Linked DNA regions of Homo sapiens. The protein of the gene in region 1 purifies or fractionates together with the protein of each later gene. This does not show direct contact. Each region holds a gene or a part of one and is shown in the gene's direction. Other genes may lie near its edges.

Region 1 (4,710 bases):
GAGTATTGTCCTAGGAGACCTCAGAGCCTAGCCAAGGGCTTCTGAGTTCCAGCCACCATTTCTCTCCTTCTTCTATAATTCACAGCTGACCTCTATCTCTTCATTGTCTTATGTGTGCTCTGGTGTGATGAGAGTAAGTTCAGAATTGACACACTGAGTGTATGATATGGTTTGGATCTGTGTCCCAACCCAAATCTCATGTCAAATTATAATCCTCAATGTTAAAAGTGGACTCTGATGGGAGGTGATTTGATCATGGGAGTGGATCCTTCATGATCAAGAAACCTTCATGATTCATCATCCACTTGGTGCTATTCTCGTGATAGAGTTCTCATGAGATCTGGTTGTTTAAAAGTGTGTGGCACCTCCCCCTTCTCTCTCTTGCTCTTGCTCCTGCCATGTTAGAGGCCTTGCTCCCCCTTTTTCTTTCACCATGATTGGAAGCTTCCTGAGGCCTCCCCAGAAGCAGAAGTCACTGTGCTTCCTGTACAGCCTGTGGAACAGTGAGAACTTCTTTTCTCTTGAAATTGTCCAGTCTTAGGTATTTATTTATAGCAGTGCAAGAATTGACTAATACAGTGTATGAGGAAAATAGGGAGCAAAAAGTTAAATCCTGTGTGGGTGACATTCAGCAACAACAACAACAACAACAACAACAATAATAATAGCAGCTACTGTTTGCTGAATACAGTCTGTGCTAGACACCAGGCTATGGGCTTTATAGGCAATATCTCAATGAATTCTGACATCAACCCTATGAGGCATGTACTATTATCCTCATTTTACAGGTGAGGCTGAGTAAGGGAAGTGGGAGAACTGAGGTTGGATGAAGGCCTGACTCTAAAGCCTATATTCTTAACTGTCCCTTCTGAGGGGTTTTTGAGCAGCCAGTTGGAGGAAAGGAAGCCCCACCTGTGTTTGCCTTCCCCAGGACCTATTCTGCCTCCTTGTCTAAAGAGATGTGCCTGCTCCCAGGTGTGTTTAGCCCCGTGTGGGCTCACTTGGGTCACCTTGTGCTTTGAAACAAGATAGCACTGAGGGCTCCTGCTGCAACTGGCTCCCAGGGCAGACAGGGGTAGAGGCCCCACTTCCCTGGCATTGGGGAGACAGATGTGGCCCTCGGGCAAGAGGTGACAAAGATCTTCCATCATCACCCCAACAATTCCAACATGGTGACAGCCCCAGACTGCTAGAAAAGCCAACCCACATGGAGGCGAGATAAAATCCAGAGGGCTCAGAAACATTTCAACAAATGCTAATATCGGTCTCTCCAATACAGCTCTGTCAGCAGGAAGGGAGAATTCTGCCAGCATGCATGCATGGGGCACACTTTTTGGCACAAGGGACCTTGTTGCTAAGCAACAGTAGTTGGCCTCCCCTCCTCCCCATAACCTTTTCCTCTGTTTCTGAGTTTCCAGTTAGCAGATGGGAGGGGCTGGGGTTGCCTAGCCCAGCCCAGCCCTTGTCCCCCTTTCCTGCAACAAGGGGCCTATTCATGGGTCCTCAGCAGAGTTCATTGTCTCTGTGGCGCGTGTCTGTGTGAGTGTTGGAGTAGGGATACAGGGAGGGGCCATGTGCGAACCAGGGAGACCTCATCTTCCAACCAAGCTTGCTGGGCTAGCTTTAATCAATGCTGGCCTGAGAACAGGAGCGGAACATTGCCTAGTAGACCCTGAGGCTTTACAACAGTGCCACTGACCCCTATGGTAAGGTTACGTCTCTGTGCCATCCCTGCTGTGGCCTCTCTCTCTTTCTTTCTCTCTCCCTCCTCTGCCCTTGGGATTCTAGGCTGGTGGAAAGAGCCTCCTGAGGCAGCTCTGGTACAGGGGCTGGATCCTAGCAGGGGCCCTGTGTGGCCAATTTCCTGTTTCCTCCCCAGGGACTGCCCTTTATTATCCTCTTTCATCCCTCTTAGATCTATCAAGTGCTTTGCACATATGTGGTGCTCAACAAATCGTTATTACGTTGAACTTCCACTCAAAAAGAGGAGCAAGGAGTCCTGTAATTTTAAAGGCCATTTTTTTTTCTAGGCTAGCACATGAGCTTGGGCAGTTGAATTTTGAGGTGGAGCAGTACATGAGGTGAGGCCAGTTTATTCAGAGGCTGGGTTTAAAGCCAAGCTTCCTTGGTACTGAGGCAGAAGAAAAGACTGGCCATGCCCTGGAATTCTCTCTAGATCAGGCCTGCCTCTCCACTCAGAGGGACATCAGCTCAAGAGCAATCACACAACCCCAGAGAAGAAATCCAAACCTCACCTTCTGTTGCTGCTTCTCTACTATCTTATGGGTGCTTGACTGGCTCTCCCAAGCCTGCTGTCCTGCAGCCTCACTGCCTGTGTCCTGTGAGTCTCATCTGTAGGCACAAGAAAGAATGTGTGTGGTTTGATACAAACCATGACCTCTGTTTCTCCTGGAAAAGCAAGGCCTGCAGCTCTTGGGAGGTCCAGTCCTATAGGTCCTGGGCTGTGGCTGGTGTAGGGAATAGGGAGGTGGGGCTGGTACCTCTTTCTATAGGCAAGATGTTGGGGCTGCTGCGCTGTCTGTGAGCTGAACTGGCATGGGTGCTCTGGGTCCAGTGGAATGATTTTCGGGGCAATTTGGAGGTGACTGACCTAGGTGAGTCTGACAAAGTCTTTCCTTCCTCCTGCTGGAGGGTTAGGAAGACAGTTCAGTGGAGTACGAAGGCATGACTGGGGAGGTTTTGGCGTGAAAAGAACATTTCATGTGACACATGAAAATCACATTTAAGCCAATACTGTCCTGGAGTCAGCATTTCAGGCTTTTATCCTCATTGGGTACAACCCTATGTGTTGACAGGGAAAGATGCAGGGGAGACAGTAGTCTGCAGGGGAAACGGGAGTTGCTTCAGTTTTGAGAGATCTTATCTACCCTACTGGATTATAAATTTTGGGGGGAAGGATCCACAGCTTAGGTGTAGTTCTTATTAATATTATTATACTTAACATTTGTATTGGGCTTTACAATTTTTAAAGTCATTTTAATTCACATTATCTTATTTGTACCTCCCCCTCTGTCTCTCCCTCCCCCCTCCCTTCTTTCCTTCCCTCCTTTAATGTACTTTAACTGAATTCCCACTTTGTGCCAGGCTCTGTGCTTAGCCCTGGGATGCAAAAACCAGTGAGAAAGGAGAGAGAAGGAAGTAAATGAGCACAATATAGGGCCCAACAGGTGCTGTATGCATAGAAGGAAGCTTCCTGGAGAAGTGATGTCTGTGCTGAGTCTCGAAGGGTCAGTTGGAGTCAGTTACATGGGAAAGGGGAGAGCAGATGCAAAGTCTCTCTGTTGTGAGAGTGCCTGAAGGCACTGAAGTATGGCACGTATGTCAGTGTGATCCCAAATTTTGCTGTGGAGGGAGCAAGTGCTGGCAGTGAGGATGGAGAGGTGAGGCCAGGCGAGATCATGGAGGACTTTGTGAGCGATGCCATGGAGCTCCTGTTTGATCCTGAAGGCCACAAAGACTCATGGGGTAGAGATGGGGCTCACATGCTCATATTTGCATTTTAGAAAGATTACTCTGACTTTATGGCATGGAGAATAACAGAGAGAGACAAGATACTCGAGGAGGGAGATTATTCCTTGGAAAGCAGGAGTTATTACTCTTATTTTACAAATGAGAAAATTGAAATTTGAAGAGATGGCCTGAGTTGTCCAAGTTCACATAGTAGGTTGCAGACTTAGCTTTGAACTGTCTGGTGTTTTTTTTAAGATCTTATTTTCATTACTCCTCTTCATGGCTCATGAGCTGCAGACACACATATGACATACTCTGCTCTATGCTTTCTTATCCCTTTGCCTTTGCTGATTCAATCCTCTTTGTCTGGACTGCCCAATGCCCATTATATCAGCTCAAACCCTCTTCATCCCTGTGGGCCTGTCTCAGAGGCTGCTTTTTCTAGGAAGCCTTCTGTGATCACCTCAATGAGAAGTAAGCCCTTATTCTTTTGAATGATGATGGTAGTGTATTAGTCTGTTCTCACACTGCTATGAAGAACTGCCTGAGACTGGGTAATTTATAAAGGAAAGAGATTTAATTGACTCATAGTTCTGCATGGCTGGGGAAGCCTCAGGAAACTTATGATCATGGTGGAAGGGGAAGCAAACACACTCTTCTTCACATGCTGGCAGGAGAAAGAAGTGCAGAGTAAAGGGGGAAATCCCCTTATAAAACCATCAGATCTTGTGAGAACTCACTCACTATCATGAGAATAGCATAGGGGAACTGCCCCCATGATCCAATCACCTACTATGAGGTCCCTCCCCCAGTGCGTGGTAATTACAATTCAAAATTACAATTCAAAATGAGATTGTGGGTGAGGGGAGAGCCAAATCATATCATTCTATCCTGGTCCCTTCCAAATCTCATGTCCTCATTTCAAAACACAATCATGCCTTTCCAACAGTCCCCCAAAGTCTTAACTCGTTCCAGCATTAACCCAAAAGTCCAAGTCCAAAGTCTCATTTGAGACAAGGCAAGTCTCTTCTGCCTATGAGCCTGTAAAATCAAAAGCAAGTTAGTTACTTCCTAGATACAATGGGATACAGGCATTGGGTAAATACACCTATTCCAAATGGGAGAAATTGGTCAAAATAAAGAGGTTACAGTCCCCATGCAAGTCTGAAATCCAATAGGGCAGTCGTTAAACCTTAAAGTTCCAAAATGATCTCCTTTGACTACATGCCTTATATCCAG
Region 2 (4,023 bases), on another chromosome or scaffold:
ATTTTTATATTTCTTTTTCTTTTTTTGAGACAAGGCCTCGCTCTGTCACCTAGGCTGGAGTGCAGTGGAGCAATCATGACTCACTGCTTCCTCAATCTGTACGCCTCAAGAGATTCTCCCACCTCCGTCTCCCAAATAGCTGGGACTATAGGCATGTGCCACTGTGATTTATTTTTTGTAGAGACAGGGTCTCACTATGTTGCCCAGGCTAGTCTCACACTCCTGGGCTCAAGCAGTCCTCCTGCCGTGGCCTCCCAAAGTGCTGAGATACCGGCGTGAGACACAGCATCTGGTCCTTATTTATTTATTTTTTTTTCAAAGTTGTTTTCGCTATTCCCAAAGTTCCTTTGTCTTTCCACATAAATCTTAGCATAATCCTGTTTATATTTACAAAAAAATATTGCCAGGGTATTTATTGGAATGGCATTCAACTTGTATGTTAATTTGGAGGGTAATAACATCTTTAATGTGTTGAGTCTTTCAATCCATTTTCAACCTGCTTATGACATTATAATTGAAGTGAATTTCTTTTAGACAGCATAAAATTGAGTCATGTTTTAATTTCACTCTGTCAGTTTTTACCTTTTAATTAGTATACTTAGTTTAACTATTATAATGCAATTAGAGAGTAGGACTTAAGCCTATCTTTTTAAAAAAATTTTCTCTTTGTTGTGTTTTCTATTTCTGTTTTGCCTTTCCTGCCTTCCTTTGTAAGTTACTGGAACATTTTTTAGCATTCCATTAAACTCTTTAATCTCACTTAAAACATTCTATTTTAGCTGTCTTTTTCTGTCATTGCTTCCATGGGGAAGAAAGGATGTCATCTTGTTACTGCCGGGTAGCGTTAGAAGTCCAGGTTCCCCACCCAGCCTCTATTGACACACAGTGTGAGGGAAGACCTCTTTTGCTCTTGAGCATGTGTGGGAATTCTGGCTTTCTATATGGTTTCCACTGACGGTGTAGTGGGGTAGTCTCATTGCTGGGTGATCGTGAAAGTAGTGACTCTCCACTATTCCTCCTGTGACACCACCCTAGCAGAGGGACAAAGGAGCCTTATTGCTGACCTGGTAGGGGTAAAAATCTTGGTTCCTTATTGACCTTCTGTCAGCCTTACATTGGTGGAAGTCTAGGCTACCTACTTGGCCTTTGCTGATATGGGTCTGGGTGGTGCCACAAGTTTCACTTTGGTGTTTGGCTAGAGCAGAGTGGTTATTGTCTAAAAGTTTTCTGTCTTACTAGGGTTCCCGTAGCTGGGAAAATATGCAGTCCTTTGTGACTAATGTCTTTTACTTAGCATAGTGTTTTAAGAGTCATCCATGTTGTAGTATGTATCAGTATTTTATTTCTTTTATTGCCAAGTAATATTATGTGAATATATTACATTTAATTTATTCATTCATCATTTGATAGACATTTGGGTTGTTTCTACTTTTTGGAATAATTAATTCTATGGACATTCATGTTTCTGTGTGAACATGTGTTTTAATTTCTCTTGGATATAACCTTATGTGAATATGTGTTTTAATTTCCCTCAGAATGTAACTGGAGTTGAAATTACTGAGTCATGTGATAACTATGTTTAACCTTCTGAGAAACTGCTAGGCTATTTTCTAAAGTAGCTACACCATTCTGTATTCTCACCAGTAGTATCTAAGGGTTCCAATTTCTTCACATTTTCACCAGAATTTATTATTGTCTGTCTCTATAATTTTAGCTTATTTAGTAGGTATGAAGTCACATCTCATTTGTAGTTTTGCTTTGCATTTTCATAATAATCAATGATGAACATTTTTCCTTTTTCTATTTTTCTTTTCTTTTTTTTTTTTGAGACAGGGTCTCACTCTGTTGCCCAGGCCTGGAGTGCAGTGGTGTGATCTCAGCTCAGTGCAGCCTCTCCCTGCTGGGCTGAAGCAGTCCTCCCACCTCAGACTCCCAAGTAGCTGGGACCACAGGAGTGCGTCACCATGCCCAGCAAATTTTTTAGCTTTTTGTAGAGATAAGTTCTAACTATATTGCCCAGGCTGATGTCGAACTCCTGGGCTCAAGGGGTCTCCTGCCTTCCAAAGTGCTGGGATTACAGGCCTGAGCCACTGCATGCAGCCAAACAGTTTTTCGTGTGCTTATTGGCCATTTGTATGTATTCTTTGGAGAAATATATATTCAAATCCTTAGCCAATTTTTAATTACTTTATCTTTTTGTTATCAAATTGTAAGAGTCTGTCTGTTAATAGAAGACTTCTCTTCAGCTCTGCCTACTTTTGGTTCCTCTCCAAAGATTTCACATAGCACATTTTAATATTTTCTCTAATTTCATACTTAAGCAAGTTTAACCAGTTCTCTGCTTTTGCTCTACTTCCTTTCTTATAATAATCTTTTCTAAAGCTTTTTTTCTAAGCTCTTAGTAGAACAATCTAGAGCTGAGTAATATAGACTTCATTCTGTAAGAAGTTAGTATCATCCAGAAATGCTTCATTTTAATTGTGTTAAAATTCCCTTTTTAAAAAGAATGGACATACATAAATCCAAAAAGCTTATTTTTTTAGATATAAATACCTGAAAGAATGAAATTACCAATCATCAGTATAAATTTTTGTATAAAAGGTTTAAAGATATATTTTGATTACTTTTTTTCTATTATAACTTTAGGATGCATTTTTTAAAATCATTCGAAATGAGGGCATTAAATCTCTATGGAGTGGCCTTCCTCCTACCCTGTAAGTTGAAATTTAATGTTTTTTCTACTAAATAATGATTGTTATTTTATCCTATAATCAGCATGGTTGGACAAAGTCTTGCATTTTTAATATTAGAATGCTTTCATTTTCTGAGGTATTGTTTTTTAAGCCTCACAGCCACCCACATGTTTGATGATGTACTAGAAGGACTTGCAGGACCTGAAGAGGTTACATTCACAGATACGGTTTATTACAGCAAAAGGATAGAAAACAGAATCGGTAAGGGAAAAAGGCACATCAGGAGTTGTCCAGAAATAGGCTTCCAAAGTCCTCCCTTATGGCATTGCACAGGATGTGCTTATCCTTCTATCAGTGAGCTGTGAAGTATACAAAGTGCTTCTGCCTTGGGAAACCCATTTGAGTTTTGAGTGTAGGGCTTTTATTGAGCATGGGTTATATGGATACATTCTGTCTTTTAGGCCAGTTGTGATGAGCAAAACTTCAAACCCACAGAAGGAAAGAAGTGTACTATAAATCGCAGTGTACAGATCAACCTGGACAAGTTGGTTTAGTGCTTCAGACATACAAAAAACCTTCTAATGGGGAATACTCCTGGGGATATATTCTCACGAGTTGTCCAGAGGTCAGGCATGCACATAGGCCCTCCTGAAGTTATATAAGGTTTGAGCAACCAAGCCTGCTGTGTTGTCTTTGCTACACAAGCATATGGTAATTTTTTTCATGTTCAGAAATAAAGACTTTGGTGTTTATTTGTTCATTTTACTAAAGCTGTATGATATATTGCAAAATGTATACTTTCCTTTCTCCAGGTAATTCTAATTGTCTACTGCCTGGCGATTACATGAATTAATATGATAAACTGTTAATATTGAATGTAAAAATGTAAAATAATAACTTGGCTTTTGCTGTCTCATTTATTCCCAAGAACTTTATACTTTTAATGGAGGAAATTAGTCAATTTGAGGCATTTATTTTAAACAATGTTTAAGGTTTAAAGTTAGTGGCAGATCCGATACCCCACCAGTCAGTCCTGCTCCTAAATTCTCAGCAGCAAAGTCCACCATATAACATTAGGCATTCCAATTTATAGTCTGTGAATGTCCTTTAGTTACATCATAAACATGGACTAGTTTCTTGTTGCACTAATATTTATTGACATGGCAGTACCTGCAACTTTGTGTTTGAATTTAATAATTCCCTTTTAATAATTTCTTTTAAAATAGTATGTCATTAGAATTCCCTTAAAATTAGTGTATGTAATTCTGATGATGTTAATTATAATTTATGTCTAGTTATAAGCAGGAGTGATATATGGTCCACAGTACAA
Region 3 (3,898 bases), on another chromosome or scaffold:
CTTGCTCTGTCACTCAGGCTGGAGTACAGTGGCATGATCTTGGCTCACTGCAACCTCTGCCCTCCGGGTTCAAGTGATTCTCCTGCCTCAGACTCCCAAGTAGCTGGGATTACAGGTGCCTGCCACCATGGCTGGCTAATTTTGTATTTTTAGTACAGATGGGGTTTCACCACGTTGGCCAGGCTGGTCTCAAACTCTTGACCTCAGGTTATCCATCTGCCTCGGCCTCCCAAAGTGCTGAGATTATAGGTGTGAGCCACTGTGCCCAGACTTCTTTCTTTTTTTTTTGAGAGAGAGTCTCGCCCTGTCGCCCAGGCTGGAGAGCAGTGGCACAGTCTTGGCTCACTGCAAGCTCTGCCTCTGGGGTTCACACCATTCTCCTGCCTCAGCCTCCTGAGTAGCTGGGACTACAGGCGCCCACCACTACGCCCAGCTAATTTTTTGTATTTTTAGTAGAGACGGGGTTTCACTGTGTTAGCCAGGATGGTCTCTATCTGCTGACCTCGTGATCCTCCCGCCTTGGCCTCCCAAAGTGCTGGGATTACAGGCGTGAGCCACTGCGCCTGGCCGCCTTCTTTTTTTTATTTTGAGACAGTTTCGCTAGGTCACCTAGGCTGGAGTTCTGACTCCAGGCACGAGCCACCGTGCCTGGCCACACCCAGCTAATTTTCTAAAAATTTTTTTTGTAGGCCAAACATGGTGGCTCATGCCTGTAATCCCAGCACTTTAGCAGGCCGAGGTGGGTGGATCACGAGGTCAGGAGATAGAGACCATCCTGGCCAACATGGTGAAACCCCATCTCTACTAAACATAGAAAAATTAGCCAGGTGTGGTGGCATGTGCCTGTCGTCCCAGCTACTCAGGAGGCTGAGGCAGGAGAATCACTTGAACCCGGGAGGTGGAGGTTGCAGTGAGCCAAGATCGTGCCACTGCACTCCAGCCTGGGCGATAGAGCAAGACTCTGTCTCAAAACAAAACAAACAAAAAAAAACAAACAAATTTTTTTTTTTTTTGTAAAGACAGTGTCTTGCTATGTTGCCCAAGCTGGTCTAGAACTCCAAGTCTCAAGCAATCCTCCTGCCTCGTCCCCTCAAAGTGATGGGATTACAGGTGTGAGCCACTAGGCCAGGACTGAATTTGTTTAATTGCCTAATTTATTTATCTTCATTAGCAGAATAAAAACCCAGAATGTTTATGGCTATTGACTCTGGGGCTTATTCTGTTAATTATTTTTTGTTACTAATTTTTTCTACACTAGTTTGTTTTACAGTTAATATTATTTAAGTAATTTTAAAAGTGTTGTTGGCCGGACATGATGGCTCATACCTGTAATCTCAGCACTTTGGGAGCCTAAGGTGGGTGGATCATTGTAAGGTTAGGAGTTCGAGACCAGCCTGACCAACATGATGAAACCCAGTCTCTACTAAAAATACAAAAATATTAGCTGGGCATGGTGGTGCACACCTGTAATCCCAGCTACTCAGGAGGCTGAGGCAGGAGAATTGCTTGAACCCGGGAGGGGGAGGTTGCAGTGAGCCGAGATTGCACCACTGTACTCCAGCCTGGGCGACAGAATGAGATTCTGTCTCAAAAAAAAAAAAGTGTTAGAGGTTTGGTTGAGTTTTATGGATCTCTGAAACAAATGTGACCTTATGAAAATCAAGTCTGCATACAGTGTCCTAATGCCAACTTGAGGCCAGTTCTGAAAAGTAAATAATACAGTGAAACTTATTGGGAGATAATCATTTAAAATTTTGCAATTTGTATTCGAATTAGAAGGGTAGAGAATTCTGAATTTTTTTTTTTTTTTTTTTTTTGAGACAGAGTCTCAGTCTGTCTCCGGGCTGGAGTGCAGTGGCGCGATCTCGGCTCACTGCAACCTCCGCCTCCTGGGTTCAAGCGATTCTCCTGCCCCAGCCTCCCAAATAGCTGAGATTACATGAGCCCACCACCACACCCAGCTAATTTTTGTATTTTTAGTAGAGATGGGGTTTCGCCATGTTGGCCAGGCTGGTCTCGAACTCCTGACCTCAGGTGATCCGCCTGCCTCAGCCTTCCAAAATGCTGGGATTACAGGCATGAGCCACCGTGCCCGGCCCTTTTAGTTATTTTTAAATGTACAATATATTGTTGACTGTAGTCACCACATTGTGCTATCAAATGCTAGATCTTACTTATTTTAATTGTATTTTTGTACCCATTACCTTTTCAGCATTTTTGTCTGTTTTTATGTCCATTAAATGCTATAGTGATATCCTAACCTTTCCTTAATATATTAATGCAAACAGCAAAACATTTGCATTAAAATATATAATAGGTTTAGAATTTCTCAGAGAGAAGAGCTGGCTTTGCCTTTGAAATACCCATGGAGGCCGGGCACGGTGGCTCATGCCTGTAATCCCAGCACTTTGGGAGGCCGAGGCAGGTGGATCACCAGGTCAGGAGTTCAAGACCAGCCTGGCCAAGAGAGTGAAACCCACCTCTACTAAAAATACAAAAAAAAAAAAAATTAGCCAGGTGCAGTGGCAGGTGCCTGTAATCCTAGATACTTGGGAGGCTGAGGCAGGAGAATCGCTTGAACCTGGGCGGCAGAGGTTGCAGTGAGTCGAGATCATGCCATTGCACTCCAGCCTGGGCAACAGAGTGAGACTCTGTCTCAAAAAAAAAAAAAAAAAAAAAGAAAGAAAGAAATACCCACACATGGAAAACATCTTGGGGTCTCCACAGTGGAAAGAGGCCAGAAGATCAGTGAGCAGATTGTCATTGGCACCCCTGGGACTGTGCTGGACTGGTGCTCCAAGCTCAAGTTCATTGATCCCAAGAAAATCAAGGTGTTTGTTCTGGATGAGGCTGATGTCATGATAGCCACTCAGGGCCACCAAGATCAGAGCATCCGCATCCAGAGGTAGGGATCTCGAGGGTGGGGGACTCCTCAGATTCCCCATCTGCAGTGTCTTCTCCCTTCACTTCAGATGCCTCCTCTGGCTTCTGCCTGGGTCTTGGCTCTCGTACTCTCAGCAGCATTTGTTTGACGGGCCACTTCCGTGTCAGCGCTGGCCACAGTCCCTCCCAGCCTGGGTTGAGAAAGGAGACCTAGGGACTCTCCCCCAACCCCTGTCCCCATCCCAGGCCTGCTGCTCCTCCTCCCCAAGACGCTCCTCTCCCATCAGCCTTCCTGGGCATCTAGACCCTCCCAGCTGGGAAGGCTGTGCTTCTGTCGCTTCCCGGGGCCACCTGGGGCCACCTACCAGGGCCTTCCCTTGCAGGATGCTGCCCAGGAACTGCCAGATGCTGCTTTTCTCCGCCACCTTTGAAGACTCTGTGTGGAAGTTTGCCCAGAAAGTGGTCCCAGACCCAAACGTTATCAAACTGAAGCGTGAGGAAGAGACCCTGGACACCATCAAGCAGTACTATGTCCTGTGCAGCAGCAGAGACGAGAAGTTCCAGGCCTTGTGTAACCTCTACGGGGCCATCACCATTGCTCAAGCCATGATCTTCTGCCATGTGAGTAGCAGTGGCAGTGGCAGGCCTGGCCCTTCCCTCTCAGCCAGCTCCCCACAGGGCTCAGGAGGACTGGATGCCCCTGGGTGCCATGGGAAGAAACGAAGTGGTTTGTTCTCCTAAGGTTTTAGTGAGTCGTAAGAGGGAGACTTTGATTCCACTTCTTAGTGATTACTTGGAGAAAACCCCAAGTAACAGCCAATGAAATAATTTTTAGATTTTTAAGAATATAAGCTGGGCGGCTGGCACGGTGGCTCATGCCTGTAATCCCTGCACTTTGGGAGGCCAAGGCGGGTGGATCACCTGAGGTCAGGAGACCAAGACCAGCCTGGCCAACATGGTGAAACCCCATCTCTACTAAAAATACAAAAAATTAGCCGTGCGTGGTGGTGTGCAC
Region 4 (4,023 bases), on another chromosome or scaffold:
TTGTTACAGGCCATGCACTTTGCTGGGTACTTTTAAACATGTGTTTTCTCATCTTGAGAGAGGCTTGGGAGTCATTTGAATTTTACTTTTTCCTCCATCATAGTGATATATTATTCCTTTATCAACTCTTAGCTTTATTTCATTGTTCATCATCTGTTCTCTCTCTCTAGGGCCTGTGTTTGGAAACATGGACAAATTTGTGGGGCTGGGAGTATTTGTAGACACCTACCCCAATGAGGAGAAGCAGCAAGAGGTAATGGCAAGTGTCAGAGCCTAGGTCAGCTACACTGACATCACAGTTCTTTGCCTCAGGAATGTTGTACAGGAGGGAACAAAGGAGATAGAAAGTGAGGGGTTCTTCATCTGTTGAACTTTGAAAGTTAATGTCCTTGTCAGTGTTTTTTTCTAAAGGGACTATTTAGGAGTGCACAGTCTTTTGGGAATAGCTGTCTTGAACAGGGGCTTTTTCTTTAGTGATAATCATGTTCTCTCTTGTGCCTATTAGATAGCCACTAAAATTGAGCATGTTTGGTTGATTGGTGATTTGGCTGCTAGACCAGCACCAGAGCAAGCTGAATTTACGTAACTCAGCCTCCCCTGACTTTTAATCCATCAGTGCTGTGCTCTCTTCTGCAACTTGCACACACTTTTCAGCTTCTTTTTCTTCTTCTTCTTCTCAGACCTGAAGAACAGTTCTCCTCGCCTATAGAAAAGGCTATAATTGGCCAGGTGTGGTGGCTAACACCTGTAAGCCCAGCACTTTGGGAGGCCGAGGTGGGCAGATCACCTGAGGTCAGGAGTTCGAGACCAGCTTTGCCAACATGGTGAAACCCCGTCTCTACTAAATATATAAAAATTAGATGGGTGTGGTGGTGGGTGCCTGTAATCCCACCTACTCGGGAGGCTGAGGCAAGAGAATCACACCATTGCACTCCCCCCTGGGCAGCAGAGTGAGACTCTTGTCTCAAAAAAAAAAAAAAGAAAGAAAGAAAAGGCTATAACGAGAAGGAAACTGATGAAAGCCCAGCATTTTGTTGGAACCTAGTATCTGGCTGTTGGCAGGCCTTTTTGTTACCTGACCTAAGAGTTTTTTAGTGCTTTCTTTTTTTTTTTTAATTTTTTTTTTTTGAGACAGAGTCTCACTCTGTCGCCCAGGCTGGAGTGCAGTGGCGCGATCTCGGCTCACTGCAACCTCTGCCTCCCAGGTTCAAGCTATTCTTCTGCCTCAGCCTCCCGCGTAGCTGGGACTACAGGCGCATGCCACCACACCCAGCTAACTTTTGTATTTTTAGTAGAGACGGGGTTTCACCATGTTGGTCAGGATGGTCTCGAACCCCTGACCTCGTGATCCGCCTGTCTCGGCCTCCCAAAGTGCTGGGATTACAGGCGTGAGTCACCATGCCCGGCTATTGCTTTCTTATATTGACAGTGGGTTTGTACTCTCTCTATGTCCTACGGCACTGCCATCAGATGGTGGGAAATTATGACAGGTTGTTGCTGGGTATCCTGTAGCTAAGTACCTAGCGAGGAAATCAGGATTAGAAATAGAGGCAAAGGTCACATTATTTTTTTCCTCAAAGGTTTATTATGAAAATTTTCAAACTTAAAAAACATTAGAAGGCCAGGCATGGTGGCTCACGCCTGTAATCCCAGCACTTTGGGAGGCCGAGGTGGGCAGATTACTTGAGGTTAGCAGTTTGAGACCAGCCTGGCCAACATTATGAAACCCTGTCTCCACTAAAAATACAAAAATTAGTATTTTTATTAGTATTAGTGTTAACCTGTAGTCCCAGCTACTTGGGAGGCTGAGGTGGGAGAGTCACTTGAACCTGGGAGGTGGAGGTTGCAGTGAGCTGAGACCACGCCATTGCACTGCAGCCTGTAATCCCAGCTACTCAGGTTGCTGAGTCAGGAGAATGGCTTGAACCCAGGAGGCGGAGGTTGCAGTGAGCTGAGATCACACCACTGCACTCCAGCCTGGGCAACAGAGCAAGACTGTCACCAAAATAAACAAAAAAAATTAGAAGAATAGAGAATGATCATTGTATCTGTGATGCTTAGATTCAACAGCTGTTAACATTTCCCACAGAACTCACTTTTTATTTTTTATTTTTTTTATTTTTTGAGATGGAGTCTCGCTCGTCTCCAGGCTGGAGTGCAGTGGTGCAATCTCGGCTCACTGCAACCTACATACACCTCCTGGGTTCAAGCCATTCTCCTGCCTCAGCCTCCTGAGTAGCTGGGATTATAGGCACACGCCACCACGCCCAGCTAATTTTTGTATTTTTAGAGACAAGGTTTCACCATGTTGGCCAGGATGGTCTCCATCTCCTGACCTCAGGTGATTCCTCCACCCTGGCCTCCCAAAGTGGTGGGGTTACAGGTATGAGCCACTGTGCCCAGCGAGCTCACTTTAAAGGTGGTGGAATGTGAGACCTGAGTTAGGAGAATAACCTTTTGTTGTGGATCAGTTACAGCTGCTTCTCTGTGTTCCTTCTGGGCTGTTCTTCATTCCACATACATTAACCACTTTCTAGGTGCCAGGCCCTGGGAATTAGTGAGCAAGATAACATGGTCCTTGTACTCAGTAGCACTGAGAATGCTGATGGGGGAACTCTGGGGCACTATGGGAGGACACAGCAGGAGCTTCTAACCTGAAGTGGGGCAGTAGTGTTGGTGGTAGTGGGGAAGGCTTCTTCCAGGAAGTGCCTTTTAGGTTGAGGTCTGCAGAGTAAGGAACCCGTGTCCCATGCAGAGGGAAAAAAGCCGAGGTCCTAAGGTTAAGAGAGGGGATGATGAGGCTGGGTGCAGTGGCTCATGCCTGTAATCCCAGCACTTTGGGAGGCCAAGGCGGGTGGATCACGAGGTCAGGAGACCGAGACTATCCTGGCCAACATGGCGAAACCCCGTCTCTACTAAAAATACAAAAATTAGTCAGGTGTGGTGGCATGCTTCTGTAGTCCCAGCTACTCAGGAGGCTGAGGCAGGAGAATCGCTTGAACCTGGAAGGTGGAGGTTGCAGTGTGAGCTGAGATCACGCCACTGCACTCCAGCCTGGGCGACAGAGTGAAACTCCATCTCAAAAAAAAGAGAGAGAGAGGGGATAATGAGTGTGTGGAAATAAAGTAGAATCAGAGACAGATGAGGCTAGAATGAAAAGCAGGGCCAGTAGTCTTGTTATGTTGCACAGTTCCTAGGGCTGCTGTTCACCTTGCATTCTACAATATTAACACTGTAGCCTCGGCATGTTAACTAGCCGCTGAGACTGACTGGCATCTGCTTGGGTGGTTGGTGGCTGAACTGTTTAGATGAGAGCCAGAGCAGACTGAATGTATGTGACTCATGCTCACCATATACCACTTGGGGCCAAGTTCTGAAGGATTGTGTTCCTGTTGAGGAGTCTGGACTTGATTCTGAAGGGGTAGGTACATTAAAGGATTTTATTGAAGAGAGGATCATGACTGGATTTGTAGTCATGCTGAGGAAATAGTGGTAGTTAGAAATGGATCTGAATAAGAGTTATCAGCTTTAGGGCCTGACAAGAGTTTTAAACTTGTCTCTCTGTTTCTTCCAGAAACAAATTGTTCAAACTCTGTTAGCTTCCATTTCACCATGAGATAGTAGTAATTCTGGTTTGAGAAAGTAGAAATTCTGACTTGGGTTTATTTTGTAAGGATTTTGTAGATGTTAATTAAAAAAAATTTATTTTAGATGGTAAAAATTGAGACATCTTTTCTGGCTAGCTATTGTGGTTCTTACTTCCAAGTGCACATTGTAATTCCCTGGAGAACTTTTAAAAATATTGACATCCAGTCCCAACCCCAGAGCTTCTGATTCAGTTCGTCTGAAGTGCAGTCTAGGCAGCCTTCCTCTTTTAAAGCTTTCCAGGAGATTCACATGTATAGCCGAGGTTGAGAACCCTTGGACTAACATGGGTTCCTTTTATCCTTATAAAACTAAATTTAAGGCCGGGCGCGGTGGCTCACACCCGTAATCCCAGCACTTTGGGAGGCTGAGGCGGGC
Region 5 (4,023 bases), on another chromosome or scaffold:
GAGTGTCATGTTACTTTCCATTATAAGCATTACTTGAAATGGAATTATCTGGAATGCCTTAAAAAAAAGCTTCAAGATCCATTTATTTAAAACAGAGCAAATATGACAAAAGTTTAACATATTTAAAATAAGTCGTTAAGAAATCACAAATCAATGAAGAAAATATGTATATTTGTAATAGAAAACCATACAAATGACTTGAACATGACAATCCAAATAAAGGAAATTCAAATGAGATGCAACTTCTTTTATCAAAGTGACAGGGATTAAAGCAATAATACTCAATAGTGAGGAGAGGGCCGTGACATGAAAACAGTGATATGTTTCAATGTAAATGTGAATTTTTTAACTCTTTTAGAAATCATTTTAAATCTACAGGACGTTTTCAAAAATAAAAGTTATGCAAAGAACACACCTCTATACCTTTTACCCAGAATCACCTATTCTAATTATTGGCCCCATTTGTTTAATCATTCCCGTTCCTCCTTTCCTGCCCCCCCCCACGAGCCCCTCCTGTACACACACACACACACACACACACACACACACACACACACAATTTTTTTCTGAACCATCTGAGAACAAGTTGTATGCATAAGGGCTTAAGAGTTTAATTTTTCAATTGAAATTTTAAAGATATTTCTAACTTTAAATATAGTTGCCAAAAAATAGAGATCCTGTATACCTTTGACCCAGTTCCCCCAATGGTAGCATTTGGAAAACCTGTAGTACAATATTAAAACAAGTATATTGACACAATTTACTTCTCTTTTTCAGATTTCCCAAGCTTTATGTGTAGTCATTCTTGTGTACCTATGTATGTAATTCTTAAGGCTGAGTTTTACTCTCACCTCTAGTATAAGCCAGTTATGCATGTTACTGTTCAAATAAAGTTTAAGATTTGTGCAGGGTTGAAGAATAAATCAGCCTTTTTGAAGTGGAGGTACACCCAGCTTAATAAAGGTACTCAAATCGAGTTAATAGAATAGCACTTTTTTTTAAATACATTGCTTTGGCTCAGGAACATGATCTTTAACCAAAAAAAAGAAAAACGATTATGAGCAGACTTGAATAAACCAAATTACTGTTCTTTTCACTCTGGAAGAATTAAGGTATTTTCTCTGCCATTCCCCAGTCCCTTTTATGAAAAGATTTGCCATAGAAACAGAGTTGGGATATGGCGAAAGCAGTTATTTCTGACAGTTGCTGGTATTGATTGCATTAGTATCGTATCAATTTCTCCACTAATATCAAAATTTCTTCACTAATTTCTCTTTAAATTGTGACTTTTGGGGAAACCAGTAGGAGTAGAGAGATGGAAAGTGGTAGGTTTTTAAGATTATTTCGGTGATCCATTTGGATAAAATAATGCCTACAAGGAATCATATCGACATTTAAAGCAATTCTGTAGAAGGGTTACATTCTAAAGCTTCCGGAAACAGGACTAAAGCAAATTGTATTTTGTAGCCTATGTAGATTGAAAAAGAGAACAAGTTTGCAACAGAGGTAGTGTGGGTCTCAAAAAGGACGCTAGGTTGGAAGCCAAGTGACAAAAAGGATCTTTTGGCTCTGACACCACTGATCTTATGATCTTGGGCAAGTAGTTTAGTATCTCAGTTTTTCACCTGTAAGATGATAGGTTTTTTTTGCATAATCTTTAGGTTTCTTCCAGATATAGGAGTCTATGACTGTCTTTTACTTAAAAAATGTTCCTGCTGTCTTCAGTAGAACTTTAAGGCCACAATCAAAATGGTGTAAGAGTGTACTTTTGTGTGTGTGTGTTTTTTTTCCTTGTAGTTCCTATTTAGAACCTTAGTAACCCTGTTCAGGATTTTCCATTCTTGGGAGATAGTTATTTAAATCTCAGGGATATATCTTTGCTAAGTGATCCCCTGAGAAAACACATAGTACTTTCCTTCCTCTGTTCTATTCTTAATTTATTTGTTTATCTTCTTCAGTAAACAGTAAAGTGGATGAAAGTTGGCCTGTCCTATGGTTTGTTTAGTTACAAGTGCTTGCCTTGTTGGGTTTCTTTTCTGTCTGAAGTGATAGAGTCTGGAGACATGGAATGCCTTAAGCCATGGTCATCATTTGCAACTGATAGGATTGCAGGCAGCTTTGATAAGACAGCTTCAGAATTGAATATGGAATCCCTAAATGCTGAAACCTTTTATAGCAAAGAAGTTGCCTGAGCGCATAAACAGTGTTTTGTGGCCAAACTAATGAGCAGGAATCTATGAGTATTATTTAGAGATTAAATGAATCTGAGAGAAAGCTATTATTCACACATTGATGAAAGATAATTGTCGTATGTCAAAGAGTGTAAGAAGCTGGGAATTCTCTTGAGCTGATACATCCTTCTGTTAATATCTGTAAGGGTGACAGCCAGGTTTGATTGGTCTGTCTCTTTATTTTTCTGGACCTAAGTTTCCTTTTTTTGTGAAATGAGGTTAGATTAGACTTCAGCATTGGTCCTCCTAGCTCTAAATTTCTTTGAATATGTAATTGTGCTTTTGTTTTAAAAGCATACTCATTCATCCAGCATCAGTAGGAAACAGGCCTATTCTTCCAAATAAGTGAACTTTCTATGGGACGGAAGTTTGTCACCTACCGTTTTAAAAGCCCCTACAGATTAACCTGTACTGTTATTTCCAGTTCTTTTTGGTGGGTAATATCCTATTTACAGAAGAAAAGACTAAGGGTTTAAGTACTTGCCCTACAAACCACACAGTTTATAGAGGCACCAGGAGGTAAGTTGTTGCTGTTTGAGAGTCCACATCCATTATTATAATTACTAATTTCTTACTTACTAAAACATACTTCTCATTAGCAGTACTTCTTTTAATCTCAAATATTTTGGATGGATGGATTTGAAAACAACTTGCAAACAAGAGATACTCTTCAAATCTTAACCTTTTCCTGGTTTCGAATTTTCCTAGTTTAGAATTTCCATCAGGAGAGCTGCATGATTTTAGAACTTCTAGTTTGGTGAATACTAAAACATGGCTTGAGTTTCAGATACTACTTAACATTTCTTTATTCATAGCAAACATGAATAACCAATTTCATTTCTGGCCCAGGTGATCCCAGAAGTGACCACAAAGTCAATTGATTGGTGTTGGCATATGAGATTAATCTTGTTTACTCTTGCTTGAGTCTTTTCCTTTGATTTCACTGTGGACAGAATAACACCACTTAAATGAGAATGCCTGGAATGATAGTAATCATAATAATAGCTAATATTTATTGAGTACTTGCTGAGTGTCAGGAACTGTTCTTGAAAGGCATCGTCTTATGTAATCATCTCAGCAACACTGTGGACTAGGTTCATTGCTGTTCCTTATTTTACAGGTAAGAAATAGGAGGCACAAGGCGATCAAGCAATTTCCCAAGGTTTGCAGCATAGTTCATAAGTAGCAAACCAGATCTGTCTCACTCTAAGCTTATTCTCTTGGCTATGAGATGGAGATGGTCTCTTAAAGTTTAAAAATGCAGTCTTGAGGCAAGTGCAGGAGTCCTTTGATGTCTAATTTTGCTCATTTGAGTATTTCTCTTTCTGCTTTTCTGTTTAGTATTACACATTTTACTCAGGTAAGCAAACTGCAGGCTTTAGGGTAGATATTACTGTAACCCTAAACTATCTTATTAGTTACTCCTTGCTAAAATGAGTCTCAGTTACTACTTATAGGCAAAGTAACTCTCTCTCAGGGGATTTTCAGGTTTCCTGGAGATTTCTGACTATTGCTTACTTACCTTCCTGCCTCACAACTCTTCTGCTCACCAGTCCACTTATGGTCCTTTTTGATGACTGATTTTTGTAATTTCTTCCTTCTTTGCTGGTTTGCCTTTTTTTTTTGATGGTGCTGATTCAATGAACTGTATTATACCATTGTTTTGAGACAATATAATATGAATGTTGCTTTCTAAATCATTATTAAATATAATTTTCAGAATTAAATGAGTAAGTCATGCAGAAGGATAGTTGAGTTTTCAAAGCACCACCTCTCCATCTAATGTCATTTA
Region 6 (4,023 bases), on another chromosome or scaffold:
AAGATCAAGGTGACCAGGTTGTAGGCAGACTTGGTGTCATCCTAGGAACCAGGACAAGGAAGGGGAAGGATGGAAGGGTATAGTGAGACAGGTTAAGACCATCACTTGGACCTTGGGCAAGTCACCCCACCTCTCTGCACCCCAGTTGCCCATCTATAAAATGAGGAGAATAATGCCCACCCTGCCTACCTCTCAAGAGATTATAATAGTACAGAAATATGCCAGAAGAATTAGCACCACCACACTCGTGTAGGTGCTCTCTCTTCATGCCAGCTTGGGAAGGAGCTTGGGGCTTCCTGGTGGCCTGGTCTCTAACAATGTCAACCTCTCGTTCTGTGGCAGCATCCTCATGGCTGGGATCTTGCCCTTCGGCGCCATGTTCATCGAGCTCTTCTTCATCTTCAGTGTGAGTACTGGTGCCTCCCCCACCCCTCCACCCATGCTAGCCGGGTCACTCCCACTCCACTCGGGTGCTCTGCTGCCTACTGCCTGAGAAAGTTCAGATGGGCCACTTCACCTCTCGGAGCCCCATTCTTCACCCTGAAATTGGACAACAGCCTTCCCTCTCAGGGCAGCATTGAAAGTGAAATGAGGCTGGGCGCGGTGGCTCACACCTGTAATTTCAGCACTTTGGGAGGCCGAGGTGGGTGGATCACAAGGTCAGGAGTTCGAGACCAGCCTGTCCAATATGGTGAAACCCTGTCTCTACTAGAAAATACAAAAATTAGCCGGGCATGGTGGCACACGCCTGTAGTCCCAGCTACATGGGAGGCTGAGGCAGGAGAATCACTTGAACCTGGGAGGTGGAGGTTGCAGTGAGCCAAGATCGCGCCACTGCACTCCAGCCTGGGTGACAGAGAGAGACTCCATCTAAAAAAAAAAAAAAAAATTTAAATGAGATATGTGGTGTGTGGGGAGCCTGGTGTGTGGAAAGGGGGACTTGGTAAATAGAAGCTGCCTCAGTGATACTTCAGTCATTCCCCACCATGACTAATAGCATCGTTGCACCTGGTTTCATTTCTGGGTCCTTGCACATCTTTACCTCTCTGTGTTACTCACAGCTCCTGGGAGGGTGGACAGAATGATTCCTGCTTGTCAGGGTCATTGTGAAGTTGGAATAAGTCATTGTAAAAATGCTTGACTTCAGGAAATGCTGTTGTAATGGTGATGATGACTCCTCCCAAAGAGTGCCAAGATGAAAGTTGGTAGGAAGGCCCTTCAGAGGCATGTAAGTGTGGCTGACCCAGCTCGGGGCCCAGCACAGATGGTACCTTGTACCAAGTCAGTACCGGACATGTATCTGCTATTCCAGAGTAGTGGCCCAGCCCCTCCCTGCTGAGACCACCTCACCCACACAGGTTTGCCTGGGAGAAGGGTCAGAGGAGGTGTTGGCTGCCCATGGTACCAAAGCCCATGTGCACTTCCCAGGGAAGCCCCCTCTGTTTCATCTGTGTGACTCTGGGCCAGTCACCAGCGTCTCTGATCCTTGACTTTCTTAGCTCTACCAGGCCAAGCTTTCATAGACACACACATGTAGCAATTGTATATGAGGCATGTGGCATAAGGCCTAGCGCTTGGTAAGCTGCTCAAGTGGTGGTGGCTGCTCTATAATTTTGATTTGGATAAGAATCATTATTTTCTACAAGCTGCTGAGTTCAGGCTGGGGTCTACCCAGAGCAGGTCAGTCAACCCCTGGCCCCTCCCTAAGGACAGTGTGGCTCACCCCCTGCTCTGGGGAAGAGGGGCCAGAGCCACATGCCAGGCCCACGGGCCCTGATGGTGTCATGATGATGTGTCCACTCCTGCCCTTGTGACAGGTTGGTGTGCCAGGGGAAGGGGAGCAGGGTGGTCAAGCCAGCTGAAGCCCCACTGTGTGTCCACAGGCTATCTGGGAGAATCAGTTCTATTACCTCTTTGGCTTCCTGTTCCTTGTTTTCATCATCCTGGTGGTATCCTGTTCACAAATCAGCATCGTCATGGTGTACTTCCAGCTGTGTGCAGAGGTGAGGAGAGCAGGGCCAGGAGGCGGGGGAGGGAGAACTGGATCCAGCATTGAACGGGTTGATGAGGCTCTGCGGAGAGGCTGGGTCTGGGCTCTTCATGTGGCCCCTGCTTCTGGCTCTGAGCTCTTGGGCCAGTACGTTGCTGTGCCTCTCCCAGCCTCCATGTATTCAGCTGTACCCTGGGCCTAATGAGATACCTTCCAGCTTAGTTGTGTGGGGTACTCACCACAGCTAGATGAAAGGACAGTAGATTTGCCAGTGCCAAGTCCACTCCAGTAGTAGTTTCTTCAACAGGCTGATGCACACTGGGTGGCCTGCCCTCCCTCTGGGAACTGGCCATTGGCAGAGTGGGTGAAGCCAGGGTTTGGGATGAACAGTCCCTCTGGGCTGGGACCCTGGCTCCTCCATGAGTAGCTCTGGGTCTTGGGCGGGTTGCTTAACTTCATGCCATCCGTTCCTCCTCCACATGATGGGGTGAGTGAGAGGACCTAACTTGGAGGGCTGCTCTCAGGATTAAATGAGTGGATTCATCTATAGCACTTAGAGTGGTGTTTGCCAGCCAGGCACGGTAGCTCACGCCTGTAATCCCAGCATTTTGAGAGGCTGAGGCGGGCAGATCACAAGGTCAGAAGATCGAGACCATCCTGGCTAACATGGTGAAACCCCATCGCTACTAAAAATACAAAAAGTTAGCCGGGTGTGGTGGCACGTGCCTGTAGTCCCAGCTACTTGGGAGGCCGAGGCAGGAGAATCACTTGAACCCAGGAGGCGGAGGTTGCAGTGAGCCGAGATCGCACCACTGCACTCCATCCTGGGCGACAGAGTGAGACTCCATCTCAAAAAAAAAAAAAAAAAAAAAAAAAAAAGAATAGTGCCTGCCACATGCTAAGCATTTGCTCGAGAAATGTTAATTATTTTTTTGTTGTTGATTTTTTTTTTAATGAGGTATAAACTGTAAAGTTCACCCTTCTTTGTCCACAGTTCTGTGGTTTTTAGAAATGCATACAGTTCTGGAACCACCATCACAGTCAAGCTGTGAAACATTTCCATCACCCCATATGTTACTGCTCTTACCAGAGTCTTCAGCCCCTCAAGCAACTGTGAAATTGGTAGGAAGGGGTTCTGCCCCAGGACAACACTGACCTTCCTCTGTTTCCTCCTCAGGATTACCGCTGGTGGTGGAGAAATTTCCTAGTCTCCGGGGGCTCTGCATTCTACGTCCTGGTTTATGCCATCTTTTATTTCGTTAACAAGGTACTGCCCTCCTTGAGGAGGTCCTCTTAGTCCTCATAGGGTAGGAAGGTCAGGAGGAGGATGCTGGGAGAAAAACCCAAGTGCCTGAATCTTCCTTTTCCACCCAGAATGGGGAGGACCAAAGCCACCTAGAACTGTTCCTGCTCTAGAAGATGGATCTTTTTAGGAAAGAAAGAATCTGTATTCTGTATGTTTGGGAGACAAAGGCCATCAGGATACGTGACAATGTGAATAATGCTTGTAAAACTTACGAGGTATAGCCATAGCCAAAGCAGGACTTGAAAGCAATATGTCACCTGCAGTGCTCTTCACAGGAAATAAGAGGGACTAATAACACCTTGAGAAAAAGGAAAAGATAAGAGTAACATGAAAGAAGAAAAGTAGAAAGGAGTTAATAAAGATAAAAGCACAAAATGCTGAAATAGTCTAAATAGTAGAACCCAAATTTAGGGCTGCAGGTATCCTGTCTCTGCAGGTGTTCTCTTCTTCACGCAAGTACTGTTCAATCCTGCAGAGTAAGGAGAGGATGGGAAAGTTTTTCACAGGCACCTCGGAGCCCTCCTAACTCTGTGACCCCACATAGGTAAAGTGTGGCCCAATAATAAGAGGGAGCCAGGCTTACCTGACTAGGGCAACTCACAGAGCTCATTGTCCCGAGAGAGAGACGTGGGCAAGAATACAGATGTCCCCACGACAGTTTTACTAGATTCATTCATGATACACAAACCAGATGAGCCATTGAGAGGAATTTGGAGGAGCCCTGTTG
Region 7 (4,023 bases), on another chromosome or scaffold:
GCAAGTTAGACTCTAGATTAAATTCCTCCCGCGGTTAGCCTGACCCGTGCCCGGGACTCAGTGGAGTCAGCCACACAAGTTAAACTCTAGATTAAATTCCTCCCGCGGTTAGCCTGACCCGTGCCCGGGACTCAGTGGAGTCAGCCACGCAAGTTAAACTCTAGATTAAATTCCTCCCGCGGTTAGCCTGACCCGTGCCCGGGACTCAGTGGGGACAGCCACACAAGTTAGACTCTAGATTAAATTCCTCCCGCGGTTAGCCTGACCCGTGCCCGGGACTCAGTGGGGACAGCCACACAAGTTAAACTCTAGATTAAATTCCTCCCGCGGTTAGCCTGACCTGTGCCCGGGACTCAGTGGGGACAGCCACGCAAGTTAAACTCTAGATTAAATTCCTCCCGCGGTTAGCCTGACCCGTGCCCGGGACTCAGTGGAGTCAGCCACACAAGTTAAACTCTAGATTAAATTCCTCCCGCGGTTAGCCTGACCCGTGCCCGGGACTCAGTGGGGACAGCCACGCAAGTTAAACTCTAGATTAAATTCCTCCCGCGGTTAGCCTGACCCGTGCCCGGGACTCAGTGGGGACAGCCACACAAGTTAAACTCTAGATTAAATTCCTCCCGCGGTTAGCCTGACCCGTGCCCGGGACTCAGTGGAGTCAGCCACGCAAGTTAGACTCTAGATTAAATTCCTCCCGCGGTTAGCCTGACCCGTGCCCGGGACTCAGTGGAGTCAGCCACACAAGTTAGACTCTAGATTAAATTCCTCCCGCGGTTAGCCTGACCCGTGCCCGGGACTCAGTGGGGACAGCCACACAAGTTAGACTCTAGATTAAATTCCTCCCGCGGTTAGCCTGACCCGTGCCCGGGACTCAGTGGAGTCAGCCACGCAAGTTAGACTCTAGATTAAATTCCTCCCGCGGTTAGCCTGACCCGTGCCCGGGACTCAGTGGGGACAGCCACGCAAGTTAGACTCTAGATTAAATTCCTCCCGCGGTTAGCCTGACCCGTGCCCGGGACTCAGTGGAGTCAGCCACGCAAGTTAGACTCTAGATTAAATTCCTCCCGCGGTTAGCCTGACCCATGCCCGGGACTCAGTGGGGACAGCCACGCAAGTTAGACTCTAGATTAAATTCCTCCCGCGGTTAGCCTGACCCGTGCCCGGGACTCAGTGGGGACAGCCACACAAGTTAGACTCTAGATTAAATTCCTCCCGCGGTTAGCCTGACCCGTGCCCGGGACTCAGTGGAGTCAGCCACGCAAGTTAGACTCTAGATTAAATTCCTCCCGCGGTTAGCCTGACCCGTGCCCGGGACTCAGTGGAGTCAGCCACACAAGTTAGACTCTAGATTAAATTCCTCCCGCGGTTAGCCTGACCCGTGCCCGGGACTCAGTGGAGTCAGCCACACAAGTTAAACTCTAGATTAAATTCCTCCCGCGGTTAGCCTGACCTGTGCCCGGGACTCAGTGGAGTCAGCCACACAAGTTAAACTCTAGATTAAATTCCTCCCGCGGTTAGCCTGACCCGTGCCCGGGACTCAGTGGAGTCAGCCACGCAAGTTAGACTCTAGATTAAATTCCTCCCGCGGTTAGCCTGACCCGTGCCCGGGACTCAGTGGAGTCAGCCACGCAAGTTAAACTCTAGATTAAATTCCTCCCGCGGTTAGCCTGACCCGTGCCCGGGACTCAGTGGGGACAGCCACACAAGTTAAACTCTAGATTAAATTCCTCCCGCGGTTAGCCTGACCCGTGCCCGGGACTCAGTGGGGACAGCCACGCAAGTTAGACTCTAGATTAAATTCCTCCCGCGGTTAGCCTGACCCGTGCCCGGGACTCAGTGGAGTCAGCCACACAAGTTAAACTCTAGATTAAATTCCTCCCGCGGTTAGCCTGACCCGTGCCCGGGACTCAGTGGGGACAGCCACGCAAGTTAGACTCTAGATTAAATTCCTCCCGCGGTTAGCCTGACCCGTGCCCGGGACTCAGTGGAGTCAGCCACCCCAGACCTCTCTCACTGTTATCATTTTTGCACAGGTGGTTTCAGCAGCTTGATGCCAAAAAAAAAAAAAAAAAAGGAAAAGCATTCTGAAAAGCCATGTATGAGTGAATCATACTTAACTTGGCCTCCTTTGGCTGCACAGCCATGCCCTGAATCGCCCTTGTGGATCCAAGTGCATCTGTGTGGCTTGAGGCAGAGCTTCCCAGCCAGACCCAGTGTGAAAGGATGGGACGGCCACACAGGAACCTGGGCCCCAACTGCTCCCTCCAGACCTGGGTGGGACTTGCCCGCCATGCACACCCTGCTGGGGAAGAGGGAGTTTCTGAGAGTGACAGGAAGTGGCCCAGCCGGAGATTCAGCCCTGGGATCTCTGTGGCCAGCAACTGTGGGCGGGGGGGTATGTGGACATCTGCTTCCATTTTCCCCAAACCTAAGATTCTGTTCCCTGGTCTTCCCCTGGCATTTCTTCCTCGGGCCCAGAGCCCTCTCCTTGGGGCTCCCTATTACCCTGAGGGGAGGGCCAGCCCACCAGCCCAGGACCCCATCCTCATAGCCACAGGCCAGGCCAGCTCTGCTCAGGGCTGGCTCTCAGCTGCACTCTCCATCTACCCTGCCTTGTCCTCCATGTCTCCAGGCACCTCCCGCCAGCCCCAAGGATACCCACCTCCCAGACCTCCCTCTTCCCTCCACCCAAACCCCAGGGGAGTGCTACCCCTATGGCCCATGTGGCTCCATAAACCCCCTTGGTGCTGTGCCTGCTCAGGGTCCACAGGCCCTCCCTCCTCTTCCTCCTCCTCCTCCTCTTCCCCCAGCTCTGGGCTCCATCCGGGTGCCCCTCCCCTGTGGGCTTTAATCCAGCCCTCTCTCCAGGGGGACATGGCGACTGTGGGTCTTCCTGACTCACCAGCAGCTGCACCTCCCTCCGCCTCCGCCTTCATACCTCTCCCGCACTCCCTGTGCTGCCTGTGCCCCAAAGCTCTACCCAGAGTGTTCAGTAAAATCAGGGGCCACCGGAGGCCCCATCCTGACTGGGGGTTGGACCTGGGGTGTGGGCTGTGCGCTTGCCTCGTCCCTCTTAGGGCAGGGAGGCCACCCCTGGCCGGTGCCCCACTGCCCCACCACCCCGTGGCACCCACCCCTCCCCACTTCTTCATATTCCATCCCCCCTTGCCCATTGCTCCTGCGGCTGGGCAGTTCCATCCTGGGGGCCCCTCCCCAGCACAGTGCTGGCCCAGACAGCAATCCACGTTGACTAAAGACTCTCAAAGGGGCTTGCTTGCTTTCCATTTTAGATGGAAGGGAACTGAAGCTGAGTGCCTGTAATTCCTGCCCAGGGGTCTCACAGCAACCCTGGGGTCCTGCAGCCACATACCAAGAGCAGCCTGTGGCCCTGGGGTGGCCCTGAAGGGGCAGGTTCCTGTGGGGTCATCCTCTGAGCCGGTTTAAAATTATTCTGACAGGTGACGGCCACCCACGGACTCTGTCACTTGCTGGGATTCACACACGGCACGGAGGCAGAGTGGCAGCAGGTAAGGAGCCCATCCATCCCACTACCGAGGGGGTGCGTGGGGGAAGGAGGCTCCCCCAGGCCCCTGCCAGCCCCCACCCTCCATCTTGACCGCCCCCGCAGGAACTGGACCTCAGACCTGCCCTTGTAAAAATGACACAGATGTTTGCTTTCAACACCGGGCTCCCCAAATACTTCCAGCTGAATGTGTTCACTAAGGAAAGCGGTCTGAGTGCAGAGGCCGAGAGCCACAGCTGACACTAGCACGTGGCGCTTGGTCAAAAAGGTCCAATCAGCTAGAGACTAGGCCAGACCCAGGGCGGAGGCGGGAGCTCTGCGTGGAGTGAGTTCCGGGTTGGTTTCCTCCAGACCCATGCGCTCCGCCTACGGAGGCCCACGTGGGCTCCGGTCCACATGGTTAACACGCACGCAAGCCCGTGTTGGGAGCAAACTGCTTCTCTGAAAGTCATGAAAAACCTTTTTCATTAAAAAAAGAAAAAGTTTGGCCGGGCGCAGTG

What was found.
Region 2: the proteins of TMPRSS5 (region 1) and SLC25A40 purify together in Homo sapiens (affinity purification with mass spectrometry; one large-scale study listed by BioGRID and IntAct). This does not show direct contact.
Region 3: the proteins of TMPRSS5 (region 1) and DDX19B purify together in Homo sapiens (affinity purification with mass spectrometry; one large-scale study listed by BioGRID and IntAct). This does not show direct contact.
Region 4: the proteins of TMPRSS5 (region 1) and LMAN2L purify together in Homo sapiens (affinity purification with mass spectrometry; one large-scale study listed by BioGRID and IntAct). This does not show direct contact.
Region 5: the proteins of TMPRSS5 (region 1) and ADGRG6 purify together in Homo sapiens (affinity purification with mass spectrometry; one large-scale study listed by BioGRID and IntAct). This does not show direct contact.
Region 6: the proteins of TMPRSS5 (region 1) and TM9SF4 purify together in Homo sapiens (affinity purification with mass spectrometry; one large-scale study listed by BioGRID and IntAct). This does not show direct contact.
Region 7: the proteins of TMPRSS5 (region 1) and YBEY purify together in Homo sapiens (affinity purification with mass spectrometry, with the first as the bait; one large-scale study listed by BioGRID). This does not show direct contact.

The regions. Positions count from the first base shown.
Region 1 is NC_000011.10:113,703,218-113,707,927, reverse strand, and holds the start of TMPRSS5 (transmembrane protease serine 5), read left to right. Parts: upstream 1-1,619; 5' UTR 1,620-1,703; coding exon 1,704-1,706; intron 1,707-4,710. UniProt on the Homo sapiens protein: May play a role in hearing.
Region 2 is NC_000007.14:87,848,572-87,852,594, reverse strand, and holds part of SLC25A40 (mitochondrial glutathione transporter SLC25A40), read left to right. Parts: intron 1-2,646; coding exon 2,647-2,714; intron 2,715-4,023. UniProt on the Homo sapiens protein: Probable mitochondrial transporter required for glutathione import into mitochondria. Glutathione, which plays key roles in oxidative metabolism, is produced exclusively in the cytosol and is imported in many organelles.
Region 3 is NC_000016.10:70,326,565-70,330,462, forward strand, and holds part of DDX19B (ATP-dependent RNA helicase DDX19B), read left to right. Parts: intron 1-2,727; coding exon 2,728-2,905; intron 2,906-3,266; coding exon 3,267-3,504; intron 3,505-3,898. UniProt on the Homo sapiens protein: ATP-dependent RNA helicase involved in mRNA export from the nucleus.
Region 4 is NC_000002.12:96,729,749-96,733,771, reverse strand, and holds part of LMAN2L (VIP36-like protein isoform 2 precursor), read left to right. Parts: intron 1-170; coding exon 171-253; intron 254-4,023. UniProt on the Homo sapiens protein: May be involved in the regulation of export from the endoplasmic reticulum of a subset of glycoproteins. May function as a regulator of ERGIC-53.
Region 5 is NC_000006.12:142,304,913-142,308,935, forward strand, and holds part of ADGRG6 (adhesion G-protein coupled receptor G6 isoform beta 1 precursor), read left to right. Parts: intron 1-4,023. UniProt on the Homo sapiens protein: Adhesion G-protein coupled receptor (aGPCR) for steroid hormones, such as progesterone and 17alpha-hydroxyprogesterone (17OHP). Involved in many biological processes, such as myelination, sprouting angiogenesis, placenta, ear and cartilage development.
Region 6 is NC_000020.11:32,158,109-32,162,131, forward strand, and holds part of TM9SF4 (transmembrane 9 superfamily member 4 isoform 1 precursor), read left to right. Parts: intron 1-342; coding exon 343-406; intron 407-1,883; coding exon 1,884-2,003; intron 2,004-3,167; coding exon 3,168-3,257; intron 3,258-4,023. UniProt on the Homo sapiens protein: Associates with proteins harboring glycine-rich transmembrane domains and ensures their efficient localization to the cell surface.
Region 7 is NC_000021.9:46,292,704-46,296,726, forward strand, and holds part of YBEY (endoribonuclease YbeY), read left to right. Parts: intron 1-3,458; coding exon 3,459-3,527; intron 3,528-4,023. UniProt on the Homo sapiens protein: Single strand-specific metallo-endoribonuclease involved in rRNA maturation.